Linked DNA regions of Homo sapiens: region 1 is linked to region 2. The links come from fine-mapping of genetic effects on gene expression. A gene starts in region 2. The other region holds a variant in brackets. All regions are shown on one strand. Distances are from middle to middle.

Region 1 (5,520 bases), 39 kb before region 2:
TGTAAAGGATAACAGAAGCCTGGCTGCACAGTGGAGCTTAATGGAAGTCATTCAACAAGCAGGTCTGGAGCAAACATCATGGACCAGCAGTACTGTGTGTTGGCACAGATGTGAAGCAACTATACTCTGATACGGCTTGGATATGTGTCCCCACCCAAATCTCATATTGAATTTTAATTCCCAGTGTTAGAGGAGGGGCCGGGTGGGAGGTGACTGGATCATGGGGGCAGATTTCCCCCTTACTGTTCTCACGATAGTGAGTTCTCAGATCTGGTTATTTTAAAGTGTGTAGCACCTCCCACTTTGCTCCCTTCCTCCTGCTTTGGCCATGTAAGATGTGCCTGCTTCGCCTTCCCCTTCCGCCATGATTCTATGTTTCCTGAGGCCTCCCCAGCCATGCTTCCTATACAGTCTGCAGAACCGTGAGCCAATTAAACCTCTTTTCTTTATAAATTACCAAGTCTCAGGTATTTCTTTATAGCTGTGCGAGATCAGACTAATACAGGTGGGGAGCTGTGCAAGATCAGACTCATACAGGAGGGGATATAAATTGAACACCAAATGGGAAACTGGCAGAATCCACTAAAGCTAAACATATATCTGCCCCGTGACCTAGCAATTCCACTCCTGGGACATACAAGCACTTATGTCCATCAAATGACATGTACAAGAATGTTCACAGCAGTGTTATTTATAACAGCCCTAAACTAGAAATAACCCAGTGCCCATCAGCAGGAGAATGGATACCCAAACTGTGGTGTGTTTGGATGATGGAATATTACTCAGCAACAACAAAAAGCAAACTATAGCTACATGCAAAACAGGGTGGAGCTCAGAGCCACAATGTTAAATGAAAGAAGCCAGACACAAAAGAGCGCAAGCTGTGTCATTCCATTTATGTGAAGTCCAAGAACAAGCAACACTAACCCACAGCAATGGAAGTCTGGATGGTAGTTACACTTGCAGCAGGGGTCCTGACTGGACAGGGTCATGAGGAACCTTCTAGGGCACTGGAAACATTCTGTATTTTGATTTGGATCACAATTTCATGGGTGGGTACACATATAAACACTCATAGAGATTAATCTTAAGATTTGTGTCCCAGAGTTACTGTATGTAAAACTATATCTAAAATATGAAAATACTCAAACTTCGGGGTCTGTTCCTCCTGCTCCTGACCTGACTACTCCACTAACTGGTCCTGACCTCGGAAGCATGTTGTATCTGCTGTGGAGTGATCTTCGTTCCCGATGCTGGTGGCTGTACCCAAAAGCAGAGGTGGGAACTTCTCAATCAAGAGGAGAATTATATGGCCATATGGTGGCTTCCTCACTCATTAGATGTTTGTACATGGGGCAGAATTTGGTCTAGGACTGAATTCCATGGAAATTTACCCAAGAGAGCAAAGTTGTTGGGAGGAAGATATATAGCTCCCATCTAATTTCAAATGCTATGGAGACTATCAGTATTTTAACAAAACAGAGGAACTAACAGGCAATGCTTGGTTTAGGCCAGTCCATGAACAACAGCAAGTGAGAAAAAGCCAGACTTAGGCTGAGGAGGCGTGGGGAGGACTTGCATCCCAGTCGTACCATGAATTTCCGCAGTGATGTCAGAGAGGTAACAGACTACTCAACTACCTAGTACAAGAAACTAAAATACATGCTCTACCTAGAAAAAACAAGAGACTATAAGGAATTACATTAAAATGGTAGTTTCTGTGTGGTCAGAAAAAGGGTAGTTCTTAATTTCTTTGCACTTAAAAATTTTCCCATATTACATACAAAAAACCCCCACGGATTTTATAATCTTTCCTGACCAGCTTAGATAAAATCTCCTTCAGGCGTCACTCTGGACTGTGAAGCTGAAGGGAAGGAGCCCACCCCTGGACCCTTATGTGATACTCCCTGCCCATGAGGAACCATCAACGTCGCATCCCCAGTATGGCTTCTCTATCCCCCAAACGGACGAATACTAGGCAGAAAGGAAGAGGAAGGGATTGAGACACGGCTTCAGGAGTTCAACTGAATCCACCCTCTTCCAACCAGCCTTACAGGTGTCAAGCAAAGGACATAAAATGTTCTCAGAAACAGCACCACGGCCCTTCTGAAATTTGGGGACAACTAGCTTTTTTGACTCTATGTAGCCTGTGATGGGGGTAGAGCTCAGTAGTAGAGTGTTTGACTGCATGTAGCCCGTGAGTCCTGGCCCTATTAAAGTTGAAGAGAATACTTATGTATATGTACACACACACACACACACACACACACGGACGTTTTTCGTCTATCCCCAATTACCTTCTGCCACCCTCGAAGGGAAAGGGCAGACAGAAGGTCACCCCAGGTGCCAGTGAAATGGGAAAAGTTCTCTTATCCCCCTCGCTGGGCATGCAATGGGGGTGTGGCTCACTTCTTTGGTACCCCATAGCTCAAACCCCTAGCGGGAGCATGCAGACAGGCAGGTCATGGGGAGTGTGGGCTCCGACCCCACTGCAGCGTCTAAGGTTTGAGTGTTTACAGCTCCCCAAGCCCCAGTGGGTGTGTGTTACATTATGCTCTTCTAGTTTAGCCATCCGCAGACAGCTTGTGTTAATCAGCTTAATTAGGCCCTCTGCCTTATCACAAGGACAGAGGGCTTTCTGTATCCTGGGTTCTTGCCTTGGTGTACCAGAAAAATAGGATCACATGTGGGCTTGGAGGATGGGTGCAAGGTTTTATTGAGTGGAGGTAGCTCTCAGTGAGGTGAATGGGGAGGCCAGAAGGAGGATGGAGTGGGAAGGTGGTCTTCACCTGGAATTGGGCTGCCCGGCAGCTGGACTCCGACCGCGCTGTGCCAAATTTCACGTCATCGTGGCGTCGTCGATAGCCTGTCGGCATCTGTTGGTGCCTTTCGGTGTGTTCTGCTTCTCTGGACTTCCAGCCGGCTGTGTGTGTGTGCCCGCTAGGGTCTCGGGGTTTTTACGGGCCCAGGATCAGGGGC[G/A]TGGCGGGCCAGAGTGGTCTTGGAAAATGCAACATTTGGGCTCAAAAACAAGGGTGCCTGTCCTCACCTAGGTCCGTGGACCAGGCCTGAGGGTGAAGCCCTCACCAGGGACCCCATTCTTCTCTACCCAGCACTTCCCTGCCCTTCTCTCGTATCACCAGGGTGGATCCAGCACTCCTCTCCAGCTCTAGCCCAGCACGTATCTCCCTGGCCCTTCTTCCTCATCACAGAGTAAGAAACTTCTGCCCCACCTTTTGGAGAAACCACTTCCCTCCTCCAAAGACCTCCTTCCCTCATCCCAGCTTCAGTAGAGGCCAGAAGGCTGCAGCCAGCAGGACCAGAGACCTGCACACTCATTGCCCGACTGCAGACACTGTGGGAGGCCTGCAGACTCAGGGTAGTCAAGGCCCACACCCTCCCTCTCTCCTTCAGCACTACTCCGAGCCTGGCAGTCTTGCCACTAGCCCCACCTCTTCTCTAAAAGTGAAACTCAGAGCCTAGCCAGGTCAGGAGAGCCCATCTGACGCACTGGCACATTCACACTCAGGTGCTAATGGCATCTAATATATTAATGGAAGCAGCCAAGCTGACAAGGGATTTTGGCAAATGCTTTCAATGATATTTTTTAACTTGTTAGGAGAATGGGATTCTCTATTCCGAGAGTCAGAGTGTCTCCAACACATGTCCCAATATTACAGTATCATTTTAGACTTGAGTTCATGAATTTCAGTCACATCATTGATAAAATTTATTAAGGACACTTTTGCCTACTTTGGGTAATATATAAGTCCGTGGAGAGCAGAAAGGGCTGAGTGGGTGCTGAGTTCTGGTCCAGCCCTGCCTTTTCCTGCCTTGTGATGCTAAGCACATCTGACCTGCCTTTCTCCTCCATCTGTGGCATGAGGGCTTGACATTCCCTGTGAGGCCCTCCCTGGAGAACAGACCCCTCAAAAGGTGCTGTCTCCCCCTTTCCCCCAACCCCAGACTCTAAGTGTAAGGGGCTTTCCTCATGTCTGTCCTTCGCCTTCCTTGCTGTCCTTGGCCATTCTTCTAACTGCCTAGGTGGGCTCCACTGTGCCCACATCTCTGTCATCTGCTCCCATCTTTCTCCTGAATTCTGGGCTCAACTCCCATCTGTTTGCTGGAGGTTTTTCTTAGATGTCCCATAGACAACACAAACTCATCAAAAAACCTACACTTTCTCCTCCCTTCAAAACCCACAGCGATCCCTCCAGCAGCCACCCAGCATCCTGTCTTAACACTCTTGCTTTTTAACTTTGATGTTTAGTTAGTTGCCAAGCTCCAATCAAGTCTCTGCCCTGTTCAAATCTTTCAATGGATGCTGCTACCTGCCATATATGAATGGCACCCACCTTGCCCTGTCTTTGGGATCCTTTATTACGTCAGTCTCAGAGAGGCCCAGGGTCACAGAGTGAGTGACAGTGACAGGGCTTTTAAGCCCGATATACTGCTCGCCACCTCGGTGGGTTCCAGTCACGTGGGAGGTCAGCTAGTCACTGGAGCTGGAATATGCACAATCTCTTTCTGAGCCATGACTTTGTCTCCTCTTCTTAGCCTCGCCTGCTAAAATCCTACCCATCTGGCCACTTTTATTTCTAAAATGGTTTATAGAATGAGCTTGTAATTTCACCCTAAATATTTTGTAAATATTTTGCAAACGTCTTTGTAATTCAACTTACAATTCATAAATAAAGTCTTTCCTAACCCCATTTGTCAAGGCTTGAATTAATTGCTGCTTCTGAAGGCTTTCATTACTCCCCAACCAAACATGTCTCTCCCAAACGCCTCCACATATCTGGGACCCTCACACTGGCCTTATGCGGCGTTATGTGAGATGTATCTTATAAATCAGGTTGTGAGTGTCTTGAGACCAGGGGTGTGTGTCTTTGCAGCCCCAACACGTAATACAAGGATTATCAGCACATTGGCAGTACTTTGTCAGTGTTAGGCCAAAATGAGAACTTTGACACTTTTTTGACTTCAATGACAAGGCTGTCAAAGGCCCCGTGGAGGAAGTGATCAAGAGACCCGAGTCCTCAGCCACACCGAGACAAGCATAGGAGCCAGGTAGGACCAGAATGGGATAGGAGTAGGGACAGGGGAAAAGCTATTCTATGCCCAGCAACCAAGCAGTTTGTCTCTGGGAACTCCCCTCTGCTTCTGCTCTTCAGGACATTCCTATCCAGAAATGCCAGAGCCACAGCCACTGAGAGAGGAACACGATACAGAATAGGCCAGTGGAGTCTTGAAATGCTGTGGAGCCCATAAACAAAGCCTTGGCCAGATCCTTGTCTCAGAATTATGCCACAGTTTCTTAGTTGGCTGACCTTGGTCTTTTAATTTTGCTGGTCTGTTTCCTTGTCTGTAAAATGAAGACCAGGTAGGCTTAAGGATGCCTTCCAGCTTTAAGAGGAGTGAGGCCTATATTCCCCTGTGTGTGTCCCAGCTACCCATCTACAGAATTAAAACAGCAGCAGTGACATAAGAGGTGTGAGCATCCTTGAGTCTCAAGTTCAGCAA
Region 2 (5,000 bases):
TGTCAAGCTCTGTACGTGAACAATGGGCCCCATCAGAGGATCAAAAGTCACTAGAGTCTTCTCCCAATACCTCTTACCACGATCAGAAACCCTACTCCTTGACCCTGCCTAGAGGTGAAGGGGTGAAGGCATCTGAAATATCTATGATACATGGTCTAAGGGCTTCAAACTACAGTATGCAGGGTATTCCCTACAAAAGACACCATCCAGGACAGCAGTCCCCAGCCTTTTTGGCACCAGGGACTGGTTTCGTGGAAGACAATTTTTCCACAGATGAGGGTGGGTGGTGAACACTGTTCCACCTCAGATCATCAGGCATTAGTCAGATTCTCATAAGGAGCATGCAACCTAGATCCCTCACATGCGCAGTTCACAGTAGGGTTCGCGCTCCTATGAGAATCCAAAGCAGCCGCTGATCTGACAGGAGGCAGAGCTCAGGTGGTAATGCTCGCTTGCCCGCCACTCACCTCTTGCTGTATGGCCTGGTTCTTAACAGGCCACAGTCTGCGGCCTGGGGGTTGGGAACCCCTGATCCAGGATACACCAACTAGTACATTTCCAGGCAGAAACAAACCCTAGAAGCTCTGAGAGTGGCTCCAAGAGATCTCTGAAGTTATAGTGGCCTGTCTAGGACCTTCATTCGACCGAAGGCCAAGATGATCTGGGCAGTATCTGAGGTAAACTCTCAATGCATTCTGTTACCTCAAAAGTCTCTCCCAGAACACTCATATCTAGTCTATCCTTGTACAGCCAAGAGAAAGTCCTAGTTTCCCCCATCATTCTCTGGATGACAAGCTCATAAGGAGCTGCGGTAGGCAGTTACCAAGGCTGTCACCACCAGGAGAGACCTTTGGGGATACAGGGCCCCATGGTGTGGGCAGACTTGGAAGGATATGAACAAAGAGAAGATTTCAAAGAGAAAAACAATTCATCGCCTTGGTTGCAGGGTCTACCATCTATATAAAGTAGAGACGGTGATAATAAAAGCACTTTTTCCAAACTACAAAGCCCTCTTACTTTTAATATTTCTCACAACTACCTTAGGAGATGGTGTAGCTATTATCATCTACACAGAAGCTCAGAAAGATGTCACTCAACGTAAAGCTAGTAAGTGATAACGCTACAATTTGAACCCAGGTCTTCCGATGCTCAATTCCTCTCAGTGGGAATTAAGAACACCACAGAGGTGCTATGGTCTGGTACAAAACGAGGCTCTGGGGCAATCTAGGTTCTAATCTTGGCCCTCTGTGACCTAGAGAAAGTCCCTTAAGCTCTCTATGCCTCCATACTCCATCAGTAAAATGAGGGTAACACAATCTAGCTCTCTAGGTGCTACTTGTTAATAAGGTATTATTAACATCTTTACTTGAAAGGCCTTCCAATCCCAAAGTGTGACTGAAACAAACAAAAAACCAATTTGGCTGAGGAGCAGTGCCAGGCGGGCTGGCACACACCCCATTTGGAGCCAAAGGAAACAGAATCATCGCAGCAATTCTGTCCGGGTTCCAGAGGCCCTTGGCTACTGGATTCCTTACAAATGCCAAGTCCCTGGGGGCAGACAGGGCCAACAGACCTGCTTCATCACCCACCCCTCCAAAGGCACCGAGGCCCTAGAAGAGGTGAGAACATCTGCCTCCACACCGACCCCAAACAGCGCAGACAGGCGGTGCGGCGCCCACTTTCATGAAAGCCGCTCCATCTTCTCCTTCCCCACCTGCCACCTCCTCGGCTGCTCAAGCATCTCTCGACCATGCAAGACTCTACACAGACGTGTTTTGTCCCACCCACGCCTCCAGACACCGGGGAGAAACTCTAGAGGGGGAAGGGACTGCTGATGAGGGAAATGAAAAGAGTTTCGCCCACAAGGAGCTTACAGTCTAGACGAGTTTTTTGGCGGGAGTTTCTCAACCTACACAGCCCTTCCCACATACACACCTCCAAAATATCTCCAACAACCCCCGCCCCCCCAGATTTCCCCTCGGCACCCCCTGACCCCTCGCTCACCCACCCCATCCAGGTCCCCGAAGAATGAGGAGCTTCTGCAATTAGACTGTATCCCCTGCACCTCACACAAGATACTCAGGAGACAAGGAGGACCCCAGCCAAGGCTCCTGCTCCTTTAAGGGGGCACCTCTTCCAGAAGAATCTTGACCCCTCGGAGAAGAAAGGAGGGAAATAACATCTCCTCAGAGGGGAGGGGCGAGCGCACCAGAGACAGCCTGACGTGGAGTCCGACCCTCAGACAGAGAAAGCGAGCGCCAGCGAATGAGCGGGGCGGAGAGGCGAGAACCCATTGGCTGCGTCACCTGCCCGTCAGAGGGACCCAGGGGACCTAGGGCCGCTCAAGGGGCGGGACTCTCGTCTGGCCAGGCCAATTGGAAGGCGTGGCGGGGGCGGGGCTTAGCGGCTCGGAATCCAGGGCTGGGGGGGGAGACAAGATGGCGGCTGCGGGAGGGGGTCCTCGCTTCTCAGCTCCCCCGCTCACCCGCCTTCTCCTTCCCTGCCGCCGCCCTCGCTCCAGGAGAGAGCTTTCGCACCGCCCCCGCCCTGCTCGGAAAGCCCCCCGCTTCTCCGGTTTCCCCCCGTGCAGTCCCTGGTCCCCGAAGGCCCCGATGCCCCCGCCCCCGCTCTGTCCGGCCCCGCTGCCGCCCCCATTACCTCAGCCGCCTGCCCGGCCCCACCGTTCGGGGCCCCTGGGCGCGGGCGGGCAGGCCGCCGAGCAGGTCGGCGCGGCCCGGGAAGCGGAGCGCGGTCTTCTCCCGCGCCTGCCTCCGTGGCCTCCGCCGTGCCCCCTCCCGGCCCGCGCTGGGGCCCCGGCCCGGCCGCCGCCGCCGCTCCCGGGGGAGGAGGGGGAATGGAGCCGCCGCTGCTGCCGCTGCCGCCACGGAGCCCGGCCGAGGGGAGGGAGGGATCAGCCCCCAGGCAGGATCCGCCCCTCCGGCCTCCCCCCGCCACCTCCACCCCTTCCCTCGCTCCCTCCCTGACTCTGCGGGCTCTCCCGCTGAACAGGAGCGAGAGCGCGAAAGAGGGGGAAACGGGAAAAAAATCCCCCCGCCCGTGCCTGGCGCGGCGGCGGCCGGGGCGGTGCGGAGAGGAGCGCGGAGGCGCCGCCGCCGCCGCCACGGGGCACCATCCCCGGCTCGGCCTCACGGTGGCGGTGCGGGCGCGGCGGGGACACCGAGCAAGAGACCGGGTCTGCGCCCGCCGCGATCCCTGCGCACCACGGCCCTGCCCGCCACGGGGCGAGCCCGATAAGAGGGCTGTGGACGTTCGGGTCTAGTTGGGAGAGACAGGGGTCCCTGACTCTTGAGCGGTCAGTCATTTCCTCCCCAGTCCTTGTGGGTGACGTGGCTACGGTTTGGAGCAGCAAGCCCCCTCCCCGAACTAAAGGGCCTCTCCAAAGGTTAAGCCAGGGCAGTCATTGAGGTCAAAACCAATATGTAGTTTCTTGACTGCAGGTGCCTGCACGACTCCCAGAAAGTCGCGTCTCCCCTAACCCCCATGCCCAGGACCTGAGGACAAAGGTCTAGCGATTGTCCATCCCCTCCCCCAGTGAGGACAGCCGGGAAAGACCTGCCTTTGTTGTGTACAGGTGAGCGTCTTGTTCCGCACCACACATCTTTTAAAAAAAAAAAAAAAAAATCTGACTTTCCGTTTAAAAGGAGTAAACAAAAGTTTGACAGTCTGCTTAAGCATGCCTGGTAACTCGTCTGTCACTGTGGGCATGGGAAACACTTTAAACCTGACTTGGTTAATTTAATGCATTAGGCGGCTTTCTAAAAGATGCTTGACAAATGGCAGCATCAGACCAAACTGGCTTTTGTTTTGATCTAAAAAAACAAAAAAATAAAGAAAAGGGCTCCATTGCCACCCCCTTTTGCCTGTAAACTGGAAAGCTTACCTCATGTGACTGAAGTCTTAAGCACCAATACATAATGATGTTTATAAAGGACGTATGGATAAGCTGCCTGTAAATGTGAAGGTGAGTGACAGTTTGAAAGTGTTTCCTCTGCTGGCACTTGTGGTGTAGCTGGTGAGACTCAATTTCTTTCTTGGTTCTGATGATCAAGGACATGTATTCTAGAGTCAGAAGGATGAAGGATAAAGTCTTAGGATCCAAATTTTCTGAATGTTTAAAGTGAACATACTGCTACTTTGGAAGTATAGATGTTATACTAAGGAATTTAAATATAGAGAGTTTCAAATTCAAAAGTTTGATTAAGGAAGCTAATTTGTTTCCAAGTAAATAGCATCTTCTGGCAAAGAGATAGTACAAAAATGCTTCTGTTAACCAATTTTTTAAATGCAAGGGGGGTGGCTCGTGGAGCTAAGCAAGGGCAGGACAATGTTTTGAAAGCTGTGAAGATGAAATAGTATGAATTAATGTCAAGTGTTCTGAAGCTAGGGGGAATAATCATTTGGAGGGAAGGTGTGGAAGAAAAAGATGATTAATTGTGGAAGAGAAAGCCCCAGAGGCAAGAAAATATTGCAATTACAGTACTTGTAGTTAAGAAAAAAAAAGTCTGAAAACTAACAGAAACTATTAAAACATGAAATATAATAATCATTTATACATATGACTAGTAACTTTTATTTCTTGATGGATGTTCTCAAAATTTATTTAGCACAATTCCCATTTGCGTGATCAGGAGCTATCTTTTTCCACTAAAATGAATGAATAAATACCTTGAGAAAATGCATTGGTTTCTACTTGTAAGTCAACGATTTAAATGCTGTTGAAAAGGCCTTAAGTCAACCTAATGCATGTGATTTTTTTCAGGTTTTTCTATTCAAAGCTTTCATATTAAGACCTTATTCAACCTAAGTGTTTCTCTTCCATTTTCAACTTCTACTTTTTTAATGATATCATTACAGTTGCCCTCACTTTAATTTTTGACATTTGGAATTGGTTTCTACAAGCATAACTGCACACGTAACCAGTTCCCTGTGATGGAATCTTAAATGTAACATGGAACAATTATGTTATTAAAAACAAATTT

The links. PIP is the estimated chance that this variant, and not a neighbour inherited with it, causes the effect. A credible set is the group of variants that fine-mapping cannot tell apart.
Region 1: its variant is the best candidate, but not a certain one, in a credible set for the expression of BRPF3 in lung (TOPMed, PIP 0.70).

Annotation. Positions count from the first base shown.
Region 1 is chr6:36,233,393-36,238,912 of GRCh38, reverse strand. No RefSeq gene overlaps it. Among named protein-coding and RNA genes, the nearest start is that of PNPLA1, 34 kb to the left of the region's middle. RefSeq lists an enhancer at 2,918-3,463. The variant G/A (reference allele first, on the strand shown) is at 2,980.
Region 2 is chr6:36,194,629-36,199,628 of GRCh38, reverse strand. BRPF3 (bromodomain and PHD finger containing 3) reads right to left here and starts at 2,885. Exons shown (of 13, transcript NM_015695.3): 1 at 2,659-2,885. It overlaps BRPF3-AS1 (BRPF3 antisense RNA 1), which reads left to right and starts at 2,426. Exons shown (of 3, transcript NR_187147.1): 1 at 2,426-3,592. RefSeq lists an enhancer at 2,131-2,180 and a silencer at 2,531-3,270.